Regions from separate parts of the Homo sapiens genome. Here region 1 is linked to region 2. Evidence: fine-mapped expression QTL. Tissue or cell type: unexposed skin. Region 2 holds a variant in brackets; the other region holds the start of a gene. All regions are shown on one strand. Distances are between the middles of the regions.

Evidence for each region. PIP is the estimated chance that this variant, and not a neighbour inherited with it, causes the effect.
Region 1: TTI1 starts here. The variant in region 2 is fine-mapped to the expression of TTI1 in unexposed skin (GTEx, PIP above 0.99).

Annotation. Positions count from the first base shown.
Region 1 is chr20:38,029,126-38,037,125 of GRCh38, reverse strand. It overlaps TTI1 (TELO2 interacting protein 1), which reads left to right and starts at 3,670. Exons shown (of 8, transcript NM_001303457.2): 1 at 3,670-3,722. It overlaps RPRD1B (regulation of nuclear pre-mRNA domain containing 1B), which reads right to left and starts at 3,380. Exons shown (of 7, transcript NM_021215.4): 1 at 3,028-3,380. The coding sequence starts at 3,178. It overlaps LOC124904898 (a long non-coding RNA gene), which reads right to left and starts at 3,020. Exons shown (of 2, transcript XR_007067579.1): 1 at 1,721-3,020. RefSeq lists enhancers at 2,748-3,343, 3,544-3,813, 3,344-3,939.
Region 2 is chr20:38,068,386-38,076,737 of GRCh38, reverse strand. All of the region lies in intron 6 of RPRD1B (regulation of nuclear pre-mRNA domain containing 1B), which reads right to left. Among named protein-coding and RNA genes, the nearest start is that of RPRD1B, 39 kb to the right of the region's middle. RefSeq lists an enhancer at 3,264-3,373. The variant C/G (reference allele first, on the strand shown) is at 4,128.

The DNA of each region.
Region 1 (8,000 bases), 39 kb after region 2:
GCAACTCAGAGACAGTCTGTGAGCATCTCAGCTACGGAAAATGACTTCACCCTAGGTAGAACCTACAGGGCTAATCAATCTGAACATTAGGGCACAGAATCCTTTTCTTTCAGTGTGGGGGCATTTTCAGTTCATGAAATAAGCCTGGATATTCGGAAGCTAGGTATTGATGCTTGGAAGAGCATCTTTTTTTAACTCTGCACTGTCCAGTAAGTTAGCCACTAGCCACGTGTGGCTATTGGAACACCTGAATTGCAGCTGGTAAAAACTGGAAACTAAATTTTCAATTCTATCTACTTAAAACTTTAGTTCCTTAGTCACACATTTTAAGTGCTCCATAGCCACATATACCAAGCGGCTACCTGTTGGATGGCACAGATAGAAAACATTGCTATTATCACAGAAAATTGTATTAGATAGCGCTGTTTATATCCTTTATGCTGCTATCATAGAAAGTTGTATTGGATAGCGCTGTTTAGATCCTTTACTCAACCACGAAAATTCTATCAGAGACCATGATTTAATTCCTATTTTTAAACTATATAACAGGCACCACGCGATATCCTGTGGTGTTGCAAATAAACAAGAAGGTCTAGTTCCTCTCTCAAAACATAATCTAATGACAAAGATGTAACCAGTTCAAATGAACAGCTAGTAGGAACAAATTAAATGCTAAACTGGTATGATGGGGTGGGAGGCACTCATTAATTCTAATAAATGAAAGCACCACAGTTTGATTGCAGTCAGGTGACCACCTTCACTTATTAAATGCATTGAGGCACTGAGTACATGAAAAAGAACACATTTTGGCATCAGGCAGCCCTGGGCTCATGTCCTAGCTGTATGTCTGTGGACAAGGCACTTAATCCCTCTATACCTTTATCATCTCATCTATAAAATGAGGATAATAATGCTAGCCTACTTGCAACATAAGGCTTTACCACGTAAGATTAGGGATAACGGAGCTTCATACACAAATGTACTCTCTAATTTGCTTTTTTTCAGTAACTCAACTAGGGTGAGGCAAGGAATCAAGAAAGTGTCACAAAAGAAGTGACACTTGGCCAGGCGTGGTGGCTCACACCTGTAATACCAGCACTTTGGGAGGCCGAGGCGGGGGCATCACAAGGTCAGGAGATCAAGACCATCCTGGCTAACACAGTGAAACCCCATCTCTACTAAAAATACAAAAAATTAGCTGGGTGTGGTGGCGGGCCCCTGTAGTTCCAGCTACTCGGGAGGCTGAGGCAGGAGAATGGCATGAACCCGGGAGGTGGAGCTTGCAGTGAGCTGAGATCGCACCACTGCACTTCAGCCTGGGTGACAGAGCGAGACCCCCATCTCAAAAAAAAAAAAACAAAAAAAATGACACCTGAGATGGACTTTAACTGCCTCTTGAGGTCCCACCCAATAGAATTCTGTACAGTGGCAATTCACATTTCAGCACACTCTTCAAATAATTTCTGAATGGCACAGTGGGGTACATGAAGAAGGCCCCATAAACTCCAGGCTCTACCTCTTCCCGGAACTGCCCGAAGGGCTGAGGGGATCCCTATCTCAGTACAGTACGCGATATTTGGGGGCAGTCCCTGCTAAAGGGCTAGAACTGGGTCTCCTGAAAAAAATCATGAAGATTTTGGTGTTTGCCAGCCTGTTGTAGTCTGAGCCTGTTCAGTTCGAAAGCCTTGAAAATACCACTTAGCCACTTCAGTTTCCTCACCTGTAGAGCAGGACATCTGTGGTGTCCCCAACTCACAGATAGTATAGAACACTTGTAAAGCCACTTCGCTATAAAGGCCTACCACATATAGGGTGTCTGGAGCAGCTCTGAGCTTCATTTCTTCAGTCTTCCATTATGAAACTCATCCGGGAGTGTAGGTGTCCATCTTTCCCCACCAGACTGTAAGCAACTTGAAGGTAAAGACCATGCCTCACAGTGAGTAATCAAAAGTCTCATCTCACCATAATCTGCTGAATGCCTACACTGTGCCTCACCCCATGCTAAATGTTCATTTGGATTATCCCGTTTACTCCTCACCACGAGATGAGTCTCAGTTTTTCCTCTTCTGCAAAGTTCCTACTTCATAGGGCTCCGAGAATTTTTTTTAATGGCAATGTATGTAAAGATATCAGTACTGCACTTCGCATGTAATAAAGACATAGTAAATTTCAGTTATCCATTCTGTAGATAAGAAAATTAAGGCACAGACAGGTTAAGTTGCTGGGGTCAGTAAGGCGGCAAAGTCAGGCTTAAATTCTAGGCAGTTGGCAGAGGCAACATGCTGCAAGTGTCCAAGCCAGTGCCTGGCACATAACAGAATGAGTTCAATGAATTGTCTGTCAGAACCTGAGCAGGGCCTGAAATCAATGACAACTGCATGAGAGAGGAGAGGAGAGGAGAGGTAAGGTCTGGGTGGCCCCTTAACCTAAGATGGGAGAGACTACCTACTTCACAGGGCTGTTCTAAGGACTGAGTGCGAGGATACACACAAAGGTCTTAGTATAGTGACTGGTATGAAGTAAAGGCTTTGTAAGGGGTAGCTATCCTTGCCTCCCTCTTACAGATGAGAAAACGGAGACACAGGGAGATGAAGAAACTCTCCCAGTATTATTCAGCTGGCAAATAGCTGAGCCAGGACTCGATCTGCAGAGTCTGACTCCGGAGCCCACTGGCTTTTACTCCAAATACCCAGCACTGGGCCCGACATGCTAGGGCCAGTACGGCAGTGAATGCAGCCGAGATAATAACAGCCACAAATGTCAGGGGGAAACTGAAGGGAAAATGGCTTGATGAACTAGAAGTCTGGACACCTGAGTCCCAGTCCGTGGACCCTCAGGCAAGTACCTTAAACCTTCCCGGGCCTCAGTTTCCTTCTTCGAGAAATGGGGCTAACTTTGTCTCCCATCTCAGAAGCTCGATCAGGCCTGGAAAGCAAGGCTCAATGAAGAGGCTTAGAGGGGCCTAGGTTGTATGTGGGCGAGAGGACAATCCGGGGACCGTCCAGGGGGTGGGGATTTGGTGTTTACCTTTGCGGAGCTCGCGGTGCCACACGGAGACGATGGGTCCCGCGTGCTTGCGGTGGTGGATGAGCCAAAGGGACAGGGTCTGCACGCTCTGCTGAGAGTTGCTCAGCTCCGAGAGCTTCTTCTCCAGCGCCGACTCAGAGAAGGAGGACATGGTGGCGGCAGTGAGGCCCGGCAGGGAGCGGCCTGGGCCGCCCAGTGCGGCGGGAAGAGCGACGGCACGAGGCCGGGGCCTCACCTGACAGGCTGCGGGACTTTTTACCGACTGACAGACTGCCAGGGGTGCGAGAAGGGGGAGGGGATGGGTCTCCGCAGTAACAGCCGCCCGCGCCGCCGCCACAAGATGGCCACCCGACCTCTCACCCTGCCGCGAGAGCGAGGTCAAAGGGCAAGGGCCGGAGCAGAGGGGCACCGAGAGGCGTCGGAGCTCTAGAAAACCGTCCCTTTGGAGGCGGCGGCCGCTCTGAACCTCGCGCAGAGCACTTCGAAGGAGACAGAGCGAGGCAAGGAGAGTAGTTCCCCGGGCCCCCGGAAAGAGCTTTGACCGCTCGAGCCTGCACACCGGCGCAGTGGATCTCGCCGGAACCCTTTTTCCCGCTCCCTCGGAACCTTTCTGGCGCGATACGGCGCGCTACTTAGCGCGTCACTTCCGGCGAGGCAGAGGAGGCGGGAGAGTGAGAGAAAGGCTGGAAGACGAGGTAAGGGAAGAGTGGCGGGAACCAGAGGGAGCCCAGCAGCTGGGACCCTGTAGAGGGGTATCCTGAGGGGACATTGAGTCTGAGAGATCATGATCTGGATATGGGAGGGGGATTTCCTTTCTAATCTGGCGGGCCCCAGGCCGCATCTTTCCTCCATATGTGTTCGGCTCTCTGGCTGTCCCCCAAAACACTTAGTTTTGGTTCTTCCAAGCCACCCACGTGCCCTTTTCACGCCTCCACGCCCTGGCGCTCGTTCTCTGTCCGAAAGTGACATCCCCTTTCTCACCTGGTGAGCTCCTACTCAGCCCCCCGGAGCACCCTTTAATGTCCTGTTTTGACCTTTTAGTCTGTAACAGCGCCGTCATGAAACACACATTTGGGCTCTCGGCTCTTAAGTGGGTTCTCACTCAGGGTATTATTACGTGCTGCTTTTGCCGTCTGCGGGTCCAGTTGACTTTTTCGAACTTAAGTGAGGTGTTAACTTTAGGGAAAAGGTGGAGGGAACTAACTTAGCCTTCCCAATGTGTCTGTTGACCTCATGTTGAGACACACTATTTGAGGCCTGGCGCAACGTCTCTTGCTTGTAATCCCAACCCTTTGGGAGGCCGAGGCGAGAGGATAGCTTGAGGACTGGAGTTCAAGACCAGCCTGGGTAACAGCGAAAATTAGCCAGGCATGGTGACGCTCACCTGCAGTTCCAGCTACGCGAGAGGATACCTTGAGCCCAGGAGTTAGAGGTTACAGTGAGCTATGATCGTGCCACTGCACTCCAGCCTGGGCGATGGAGCGAGACTCTTCTCTGAAACAAAACAAAACACTATCTGAGACTCTAAACCTTGACCCTATTTTTTTTTTAAGTTTTAAATCCCAGGTATCAAAGCAGCAGAGAAATTTTGTTTTTCTTACTGCCACGGGGGTGATGGTAGGGAGTTAAGTTATAGACATAAGAGGGTTTTAAAATTTCCTGATCGTGGTATAACTTCCTAGTTGTGGGCAGACTCTAGTTTAGGAGACGTTCTTCTAGTTGATGCCTGCTTTTGCTCTTATTGCACTGTATTGCAGTTCTTTGCTTACATGCTTTTACCCTTCCTCCAGACTGGAATCATAATCATAGCTAACGCAGTGAGAGGTTACTATGTGCTAGACACAATTCCCACACAGTAACTCATTTAATCCTCACAACAAAGCTGTGAGGTATTATATTATCCCCCTTTGGACAGCGTAGGAAACAGGCTCAGAGAGGTTAAGTGACCTACCCAAGATCACATTACTAAGACTTGAGGGAAGGGGCTGCAACTTAGCCATCTTTTTGGCCCCAGTTCCTGATTTATCAAGTGAGTTAGTGTAAAAGAGGTGAGTAACCTAAAATCATACAGTGAGTATCTAGTCATAACTGAGGGCTTTTGTGTCGAAATCTAGATCATCTTTCCATATTAATAACACTGTCATATACTGAGCACTTTTATACCAAGTCACTGTCTATTAAGCACATTACATACTTTTTAAATTTAATTCTTACATCAGTCTTAGGAGTTGAAATTATTACAATCACTATTTGATAGACGAGAAAATGTAAAGCATGGTTAAGTACCCTATGTACTTGGACATAGTTAGGAAATAGCAGAGCCAGGAGTCAAATTAGGGTTATCTTATGTCTGATCCCAAATTCTTGCCTCCTGAACCAATAGTTTATTCATTCATTCGGAAAATAATTTTTCAGCACCTATGTCCAAAGCACTCTTCTAAGCTAACAGACAAAATCCACGTTCTCAGGAACTTACTTTCTACTGAGAAAGATAGAAAAACAAACATGCAAGTTTAGAATAAGTCAGAAAGTGGTAAGTAACTTCAATAAAAATCAAGGAGATAAGGAGGATAAGGAATGTATATGTGTAGGTGGGTAGTCTTTTACTTATGCTTCTCAGAGAAGGCCTCATTGATAAGATGTCATTTGAGAGACAAGCCATATGCCATTGTTCCAGGAAGAGGGAAAACCAAGTTTATACCATTGTTGGCATTTTGGAGCAACAGCAGAGAGGACAATAAAGCTGGAGTGATATGAACTAGAAGGGTGGCTGGAAATTAGTTCAGAAAAGTACGAAGGGACTGCATCACATGGTGACTTGTAGGCAATAGTATAGACTTTAGATGTTACTCTGAATGAAATGAAGTCCACTGGGCAGTTTTGCACAAAGAAGGAGCATTGTGGCTGTTAGGTAGAAAATAAGACAGTAAGAGTGCAAAGGTAGAAGCAGGAAGGACCAGTTTGGCAGCTGTTGTAGTAACCCAGGTGAAAGGATAACTCAAACCAGGGTGGTATCTGTGGAAGTGGTAAGAAAGGGACAGTTCTGGGGATATTTTAGAGGAAGAGGTAACAGGATCCGCTGATAGATTGGATATGGGGTGTGAAAGACATATGAGAGTTGAGATAGCTCCAAGGGTTTTGGCCTAAGCAACTATAAGAATAGCGCTTCCATTTACTGAATTACAGAAAAGAGTGGGTTTGGAGAGTAAGAGCAAGCATTTGTATTTGGACATGTCCATTTGGAAATGCCTATCTGAGTATAGATGTCTAAGGGGCAGTTGGGTTTATGGGTCTGGAATTCAAGGAAGAGCTATCTGGGTTAGAGATAAAAATGTGAGAGTCATAACGGAATAAGGTGTAAAAAGAGACTGAGTCCTAGGATTCTTCAACATATAGAGGTCTGAAAGGTGAGGATGATATGATTATGTGATTTTTCTTCTTAAGCTTGTTAATAGCTTGTTAGTATTAACAACTCTAATTGATTTTCAAATATTGAGCCAGTCTTGCATCTCTGAAATATACCCCACTTTATCATGGTGTGTGTGTGTGTGTGTGTGTGTGTGTGTGTGTTTTACATACTGCTGAATTTCCTAATATTTTCTTTAGGATTTTTGCATCTATACTCATGAGAGAAATTGGTCTATAGATTTTTTTAATTTTTGTATTGCCTTTGGTTTGGTATCAGGATAATACTGGCTTTATAAAATGGATTGGAAAGTGTTTCTTCTTTTTCTAGAAGAGTATGTGCAGAATTGGTGTTAATTCTTCATTAAATGTTTGGCGGAATTCTCCAATGAAACCATCTTGGTTTGGAGATTCCCTCCACTCCCTGCTTCCCTCCCTCCCTCCTTCCTCCTTCCTCCCTCCTCCCTCCCTCCCTTCCTTCCCTTCTTCCTTTTTTTTCTGGAGTTTTTAAGTGACAAATTCAGTTTATTTAAAAGTTATAAAGCTGTTAAAATAATCTCTTTCCTATTGTGGTTGTGTTTTTTGAGGAATTAACCACTTCATCAAAGTTGTCAAATTTATATGGGTAAAGCTATTTGTGGTATTCCCTGTCTTTGTTTTCTGTTGCTTATAACAGAATACCTGAAACTGGGTAATTTATAAAGAAAAAGGATGTATTTCTTACAGTTATGGAGGCTGAGAAATCCAAGGTCACAGGGCCACATCAGGTAAAAAACTTTCTTGCTGGTGGGGACTCTGCAGAGTCCCAAGGCAGTGCAGGATATCACAGGGCCAGGGGGCTGAGTGTGCTAGCTGAGGTCTGTTTTGCTCTTATAAAGCCACCAGTTCCCATGATAACCCATTAATCCATTTATGAGGGCTTATAAAGACTCCACTTCTCAATACATTGGGAATTAAATTTCAACATGAGTTTTGGAAGGGACGGATATTCAAACCATAGCATTCCCATATTACCCTTTGATGTCTGCAGGGTCTGTAGTACTGTCCCGTTTCATTACTGATATTGGAAATTTCCAGTATCAGTGTCTCGTCTCTTCTCTCTCCTCTCTCTCTCTCTCTCTCTCTTGCTCACTCACTCCCTTGTCAATCTTGCTAGAAGTTTGTCAATTTTATTGACCTTTTCAAAGAACCAGTTATTTATTTCATTGACTTTCTGTGTTTTCTGTTTTCAGTTTTGTCAGTTTCTGCTCCTTATTATTTCTTCTGCTTGCTTTATTTTGCTCTACTTTGTCTAGGTTCTTGTGGTAGGAGTTTACCTTTTTCGTTTGAGACTTTTCCCCTTTTCTAATATATGACTTAGTACTATTAATTTACATCTCAGCATGGCTATAGCTGTATCCACAGATTTTGGTGTGTCATATTTTCATTTTCATTCATTTCCCTATTTTTTTTCTAATTTCCCTTAAGGTTTCCTCTCTGTTCCGTGGATTATTTAGAAACATGTTGTTTAGTTTCCAAGTATTTGGAGATTTTCCTGTTATCTCTGTGTTAGTGATTTCAAGCTTGAT
Region 2 (8,352 bases):
AAAGAGAAAGGGAGCCAAGAGGCAGAGACTAAGAAGTACCTTTTGGGTTTTGAGATTAGACCACTGGGGGCAGGGGTGGGGGGAAGGGGGGAAATTCTGAAGACAGCCACTTGGGTGGAATGTAGACATGCATGCCAAGCTGCAACAGGCTGAGAAGCAGAGGCAGCAAGGGAAGTGGATATGGTGGTAGTTATAAAGGGAGGGTGGTGCAGAGGGTATGCTCATGTGAATGTGATGATTTCTTTTAAACACTGGAGAGACAAAGCATGCTACATGCTGAGGACCTTCAGCTAGTTTACTGGAGACTTCTCATGTGGGCAGGAAAATAAATTGGCCCTAAAGGTCCCATGTGACGAGGGAAGGTGGAAGCTAACAACTTCAGATTAGTTAAGGTGTTGGAATCTGTTGTCCCAGGAAGGTAAAGTGTTACTTTATCAATGAAAAGTCACATCAAAGATAAAACGCTGGGAGGACCACTGGCTTCAATGGAAAAAGCCAAAAAGAACCTGAAATATGCAAAGCAGATCATCATCACTGCACCATAATTGGGGTAAATGGTATCTTAAAGGGAACAATTCCTACTGAGTCTATGCCCCACAGAACAGACACACTGTGAGCAAAAGGAAAGGACTGGGAAAAGGACATCATGAGTAAAAGTAGGATTTGTCCATTCATAATTACTGTCCAAACCCCAATAATTCTCAGAAAGGCTGCTGGTAAATTTTTGTTGAGTTGAAGTTTGCGAAGTTATTGTGCTTGAAATTCTCAAAGTAGCTACTGGCAGAATTAGGCAAAGAGAGCTAATCATACTTCTTCCTACAGATGTTTAAAGATAAAGGACCTCAATAAGGAAAAAAACAAATAAGGAGGCTTGCACAGCCATCATGACAGCTGGCTAGTACCATCCTCTTCACATAAAGCATGCCATATCTTTGGGGCTCATGGCTTTCATCTGCAAAGGTTTCACTTGACTCCTGATTATAACCAGAATACTTTGCCCTGATCTCAGAAAATGACTCTTTCTGATCTATTTCAAGTCTAACATTTTAGAGACAGAAAAACAAAGTCAGAGATTAACTTCCAAGATTGCAAAGTATGCCACAATCCAATTTTAACTTTCTTCAGAATCCCAATTTTAAGTGGGAGTAGAAGGCCCACCTTAACAGTAGTAAGAACATTCATAAAGACTAAAATAGAACCTTGCTCAAAATAACTTGCACCCACTAGGTCAAACAGGCAGCTCAAATTTCTGCAATCTGAACCTTGCTCTCAATATTATGCTCACTCAAGTCAATGTTATAGTAGAAGTATGTGCTATTTTCACACAGCTATCTCAAATGTAAACAAGATCATTTAAAAGCCAGAAGAGAGCTCCATTAGTCTAATTAAACTATTCTGTGTTTACTCCTTCATAAAACAAAAGACTAATCCTTAACTTGTATAGAGGTTTATACAAAATAAGCTCAATGAAGTCCTAGACTGGTTAAGATGCTTTGGAAAAGACAAGAACTCCTACAGCAGGAACGCATTCTGGTGGCAGAGACCGTGAAATGTATATGACCTTCAGTATACTTAAAAGACAAGCAGACATCTGCACATATACATAGAACCACTTCTAGAAATCTACAGGAAGAAAATAATCCAAACACTGAAAGTTAGCCTAAAGCTAAGAGACAGAGACAGAAACATACAAGTGCTCAATACAAATAATCATTGACTATCCAACCACAGGTATTCAAGCAATCATTTACAATGTTTATAAAGTTTTTATTTACAAGGAAAAATAATCATGTTAAGAAAAAAGCATGACAGAAAATTATCTGCAAGTTATCATTCAGTTTAATTTTAAACTAAGAGGAAAAGGAAATACGCAAAAATTAAAAATAGTTATCTCTGGGTAATGAGACTAATTTTATTCTTTATACTTATTTGCTAAGTTTCCTCTGATGTATTACTTTTACAATCAAAAAAAGAAAACAAAAACAAAAACAAAAACCCTGAGTACTAGTTGAACCAGAGTGAATGTTCTGGCAGGCAGGAGTAATAAGAGGCCCAGGTGCTGTTTTAACTTCATATTATATGCATTCCATAAATATGAAAAATTAGTGCTACATATACCAGCTGAAACTCAGTGGCACTGTTCCATCAAGCAGGGGTTACACTGCCCACAGAAGTTGGGCTACAAATATGAAAACGGTACTATGGCTAAAGGCATGAATTCTTGCTGGGAAAGCCTTAAAACCGTGTCACTTTTTCAATGTAAAGTCTCAAAGTCTCAAATGTTGGCAAATCATGTTCTTAAGTCACTAAGTATGTGAAGTACATTATAATGTGGCATTATTTTCCTGGAGTGAAAAATAAGTATCATAGGTTTCACATTGTAATAAAGAAACACACACACACCCAACAGATAAAAGCTCCAGCTATAAACTGGGCCTAAGCAGTAGGGTCAGTAGACTAAAATGAATAAAAGAAATCCAAGGAACTCCAAATCACTCACAGAAGCCCACACATTAACTCAATAAAAGTCCTCACATATTGGAGGGAAACTGGCGGAAAAAAAGAAAATAAAAGAAAAGTAAAAAGAAAGAAAACTCCCACATCAAAGTAGGGGATGGAAAGGCAAGGGAGAGCAGTAAGCACACTACGGCCTGCTTCGTGGGAAGGTACTGAGTGCAAGGCCCCGTAATTACTTGGCAACAGAATGACCTGTTTTAACAACTATTCTAACAACCTGGGTGCTGACAGAGCTGCCAGCCTAGGGAGGACAGACTTGAATACTACAGAAGGGCAGTGAGTTTAGAGGACTGAGAGGAGGGGGCCGGCACTAGGCAGGGCCTCTCAGCTCCCAGGAGAACACAGTGGATGATCACTGTAGTTAGGAGTCAGAAGATCCAGGTACTGGTCCTCACTGGCTTCCTCTGTGACCCTGAAGTGTTCACATAAACCCAAGGGCTCTTACCTAAAATGACAATTAGATCACCGGCTCCCATCTGTCCTTACCATGATAGGACACTGAGATACTGGCTTTGATCATCATAGGAAAGACGAATTTACTCCAAAGTTGACAAAAAAGGAGCTCTCTATCTCCCCCTACTGCCTGGCCTAATATTGAAACAAAAGCTTCTAACCATCTGCACCCTGCAGGGAGGTGCTGCCAAAAACAACAATCTGCCATCATTTTGGTTGAGCACCCCTTCAACTGTAGCCAAAGAATTTCTCAAGTTGTTATAACCACAATCAAACAGAAATATGAAGAGTCATAAGGCAATGTTGGATTCTGAACCATTTCCCCCTTCCCAGCTGTGTTGTCTGAAGTCAGAGGCTCTACTCCTGAGTAGTCATTACAGCCAAGGGGGAGGTGCCAAGCGAGGAGAAACACCAGCAGCTTTAAGTTCATGAGCCAATTTCTCCCCTCCTATCAGAGCAAGAGCGTGAGCAGGGGTACAGCGAGGCAGGTACTTAGAACCTTGGTGGCAGAGTAGGTTCTTTCACACTTAGAATGCTTTCATGCAATCATTTTATGACCCCACATAAAATGTCATTTCTCTACAACAAGATTCTTGGGAACTGTTTAAATGATTAAACTTTGGCTACTATTCTGTGTAAGATGTCTTCCTGCTGTTGATGTTGCAGAATCAAAATTCTGAAATCAAAACAAAAGTACAAATCTGATGAAGTTACCAGATGTCTGCCTTGGACTCTATGCTGGTCTGCAGCTACCTCTCTCTCTAGGTTTCTTCACCAATTCAGAAGTCTGATTATATGATCTCTAAGGTTCTGTCCAGCTCAATAATCCTGCTAATCACTTTACTTAGATATCCAGGCCTCTATGTGTCACTTTACTTTGTAAAGCTGCTGTTGTGACTGTGCCCTGGTGACTCCATTGAGTCCATACACAAAATACTCATATCTTCTAGAGGTGGGGGTTAACATTATTGAAAGGTGATACCACTGCCCTCCATCTGTGGTCCCAAAACCTAGACAGGGCCTTTATAATATCAAATGCATCAGTAAATGACACTCTCCTAGAGTGCTTTTTAAAATTCTGCAGCAGAAATTGAAGACTTAAATAAATGTGAAGACATCCCCTGTTCATGAGCTGAAACACTTAAGACTGCTAAAAT[C/G]GCAATACTCCCCAAAGTGACCCGCAGACTCAATGCATTCCCTAGTAAAACTTCAATTACCTTTTTTGCAGAAATGGAAAAGGTGATTGTTAAATTCATAGGGAATTGCAAGCGATCCTAAATAGCCAAAACAATACTGAAAAAGAACTCTGAGGACTCATACTTACTGATTTTAAAACTTACTACAAAACTACAGTGATGGAGATAGTGTGGTATGAGCATAGGATAGACATATACATTAATGGAATAGAATTGAGAATCCAGAAATAAACCAATACATCTGTGGCCAATTGATTTTTGACAAGGGTGCTGGGCATTCAGGTGGAGGAAAAGAGTAGTCTCTTCAACAAATGGTGCTGGGACAAATGGATATCTACAGGCAAAAGAATGAAGTTGGTCCCCCCCTACATCACACCACATACAAAAACTAACTCAAAACAGATTAAGAACGTAAATTTAAGACATAAAATTATAAAACTTCTAGAAGAAAACACAGAAAAAAATTGTCATGACCTGGGATTGGCAACAGATTATTACATGTGACACCAAAAGCATGAGCAACAACCACAAAAATAGATAAATTGGAACTCATAAAAATAAAAAACTTTTGCACATCAAAGGATATTACCTAGAAAGTGAAAAGACAACTTATAGGAGAAAATAGTTGCAAATCATTTATGTGATAAAGGTATATTATCCACAATATATAAAGAACTTTTACAACTCAAAAAAAGCAAATAACCCAATTTGAAAATGGGCAAAGGAATTGAACACACATTTCTCCAAAGATAAACAGCCGACAAGCATACTGAAAGATGATCAGTATCGTTAGTAATTAGCAAAATGCAAATCAAAATCACAATGAGATAAACCTGCACATGTAGGTTGTCGAAAATAAAGAGACAATAACAAATGTTGATGAGGATGTGGAGAAACTGGAACCCACGCACATTGCTAGTGGGGATGTAAAATGATGTAGCTGCTGTGGAAAACAGTCTGATGGTTCCTCAAAATGTTACATAGAATTACCATATGACCCAGCAATTCCACTCCTAGATTTATACATAACCAAGAGAAATGAAAAGATATGGCCACACAAAAACCTCCACATGACTGTTTATAGCAACACTATTCATAAGAGCCAAAAGGTGGCAACAACTCAAATGTCCATAGACAGGTTATAAACTGTGTCACATCCATACAACAGATTAGTGTTCTACCATAAAAGAGATGAAGTACTGATATATGCTACAACATGGGATGAATCTTGAAAACATCGTGCCGAAAGAAGCCAGACACAATTATGTTTTGGAACTTGATACAATACTGTGAACGTACTAAATGCCACCAAAATGTGTGCACTTTGAAGTGCATGGTTAATTTACGTTATATGAATTTCACCTCAACTAAAACAATAAATCTGCAGCTTGGAACAAATTTCTCAAGAGCTCTTCCCTGTGTGGCATATCATCTTTGTGTGTGTGCACCATGTGGCATGTGGGTCAACACAGGACTATCTGCTTTCAGTTCTAGATCGCTGACAGTCAGACACCATGATCTGAATAAAATTCACAGTTAAGGCCAGGCATGGAGGCGCATGCCTGTAATTCCAACACTTTGGGAGGCCAAGGCAGGTGGATCACCTGAGATCAGGAGTTCGAGACCAGCCTGCCCAACATGGCAAAACCCCATCTCTACTAAAAATACAAAAATTAGCTGGGTGTGGTGGCATGCGCCTGTAGTCCCAGCTACTCGGGAGGCTGAGGCACGAGAATCGCTTGAACCCGGGAGGCAGTGAGCTCAGATTGCTCTACTGCACTCTAGCCCTGGGCAACAGAGCAAGAGTCTGTCTCAAAAAAAAAAAAAAAAAAATCACAGTTAAGAAGGGAAAACTGCAGGTTCCTGACCTTTTTTCTTTCCTTAATACTTGTACAAATAGGTTTCTTTCTCACACACACACTCTTCCACATGCACTGATCATGCTAACAGAACATGTCTGTATCATGCTTTATTCACGCTGACAAGACAGGAACCCTATCCAACCCACTCACGCTATGTCTTATGAGCTTTGAGCAGACATCTGGGAGTAATGTAGTCACCTCTGTCAACCACAAACAAAGCTTCTCTTTGCTCTGGAAGTGAAGCTGGAAGGCTTTTCTGGTATCTTTGGCCTTTGCCTTTCTGAATGGGCTTTCTTCTATACCCTCCACATTCTCTAACCTCCTCTTTGGGCTGCCATTTGTGCTTCCTTCCACGTGCCTTCTCCATTTCTAGGTTTTCTCATGTTCATGACAAAAACATTACCCACAGATTTTCAGCAGCATTCCTTCCACCCTTGCCTGGTGTTTAAGGGCCAACATCATAGGCCAAAGTCAATCATGACACCCTGAAGCAAAAGTCAAAAACAAACAAACAAAAAAAGATGATTATCTCAGAATAAAGCATAATTCTACTTAAAGGAAAAAAGAAAAGTAGTACAAAGGAGAAAACCTACAGAAACTTCTAAAAATGGTTACCTTTCCGTACTAACATATTCTTTACAACCAATCATTAAATCAGATTTGTTAAGCCACTTTTAATGCAACCTTAAAAAAAAACCCTTTTCTCTATAGAAAAAGGTTACATCAAGTGATGGATTTCACAGAACAAGTATTTACTGAGGAACAAATATGTTCCTGGCACTGTGAGAGCACTCAAAGAGTATACAGTCTAGCAAACTTTGGGAGACCTGCTGAAGGCATTACAGTTTCAGAAACTGTCCATGATTTGATAACTCTCACAATTTTAATAAGCATCTGATCAAATTATTATTAGCATCTTCATTTTTTTCTTGGTCTATTTCAAGGTAGACACAAGTGAGAATATTTTCCTTACTGACAACCTATCTTGAATTCTACCCTAACCCCTTGTTTGCTGCTATTTCCCCCTGACTAGAGCATAAGCCCTTTGAGGGGAGAAGTGCATCGTGCCCATCTTTGTACATCTGGCTGGCACAGGCTTTGCTGACTCCCTGAATGAATACGTAGCTTCTTAAAGAGCACAGACCTTAATCTCCCACTGGTGGTCTGCAGCACCTCCTTCCCACATCTGACTTTGTCTTTCTTCAGATACCTGTCTGGTCCAGTCTAACTGCTCCCCATTTATAAACATGCTTCTCTTCTTCAACTGCTAGTTCCTTTTACAAAAAGGTTTTATTGCCTGACAGGAAGTTTGGACTTACCTTAAACCACAATCAGAACCGCCAAATGCCTCCTTAATCTACATTATGTACGATCAAGTGGTTTGGTTTTATGTTCACCTGTGTTTTTTATACCAGAATATGATTTCCTCGAGGGAAGAAACACAATCTCCTACTTTGAGCCGTAATTCCCTCTCCTACATCCTAGGCTCTGAATCATCACACGCCCTATCCTGACATGCAGGAGCCACCGACATAAAATTCCCAAGTGAAAGAGAAAAAGATGCTTATTACATAAAGCAAGATACAAAGTTAAAAAGGAAAGCACAAAACCTAAGTATATTAGAGCTTTGGGATGAAAACAGACTCGCAAGCAAATAACTACTTCTCCAAAGAGTTCTGAGAATTTCATCTATGTATATCCTGAAGGCAATGAAAGGATTAAAAAATAAAATATTTAATTAGCATTCTGATTTGGAAGTTTTAAAACGGACTGGCTGTGTTACAAAAATGAATGTTAAAAAAGTGGGTAAACTTTATGTACTGCCCCATCACGCAGAGAGACTTTTGGACAATCTGAAGGAATTCACAGTATTCACGCATCTTTCAAGGGGCATACATTTATCAAGTTCGGCCACCACCATAGGGATGTGATGGGACAGGACCAGTCTATTACAGAATGTGAGAGAAAAATCTTAGGTTCAGGAGAGCAGACTGCCTAAATTTTTAGCAAGCGTGGATAAAGAAAAGAACTAAAACCATCTCTCAAATCTTATATTGTGAAGCGGCCAGATCACTTGACGTCAGGAGTTCAAGACCAGCCTGGCCAATATGGTGAAACTCTGTCTCTGCTAAAAACAAAAAAAATTAGCCGGGCGTGGTAGTACATGCCTATAATCTATAATCCCAGCTACTCAGGAGGCTGAGACGGGGGATTGGTTGAGCCTGGGAGGTGGAGGCTGCAGTGAGCTGAGATCACGTCACTGCACTCCAACCTGAGTGACAGAGCGAGACTCCATCTCAGAAAAAAACCTTATACTGTATCTA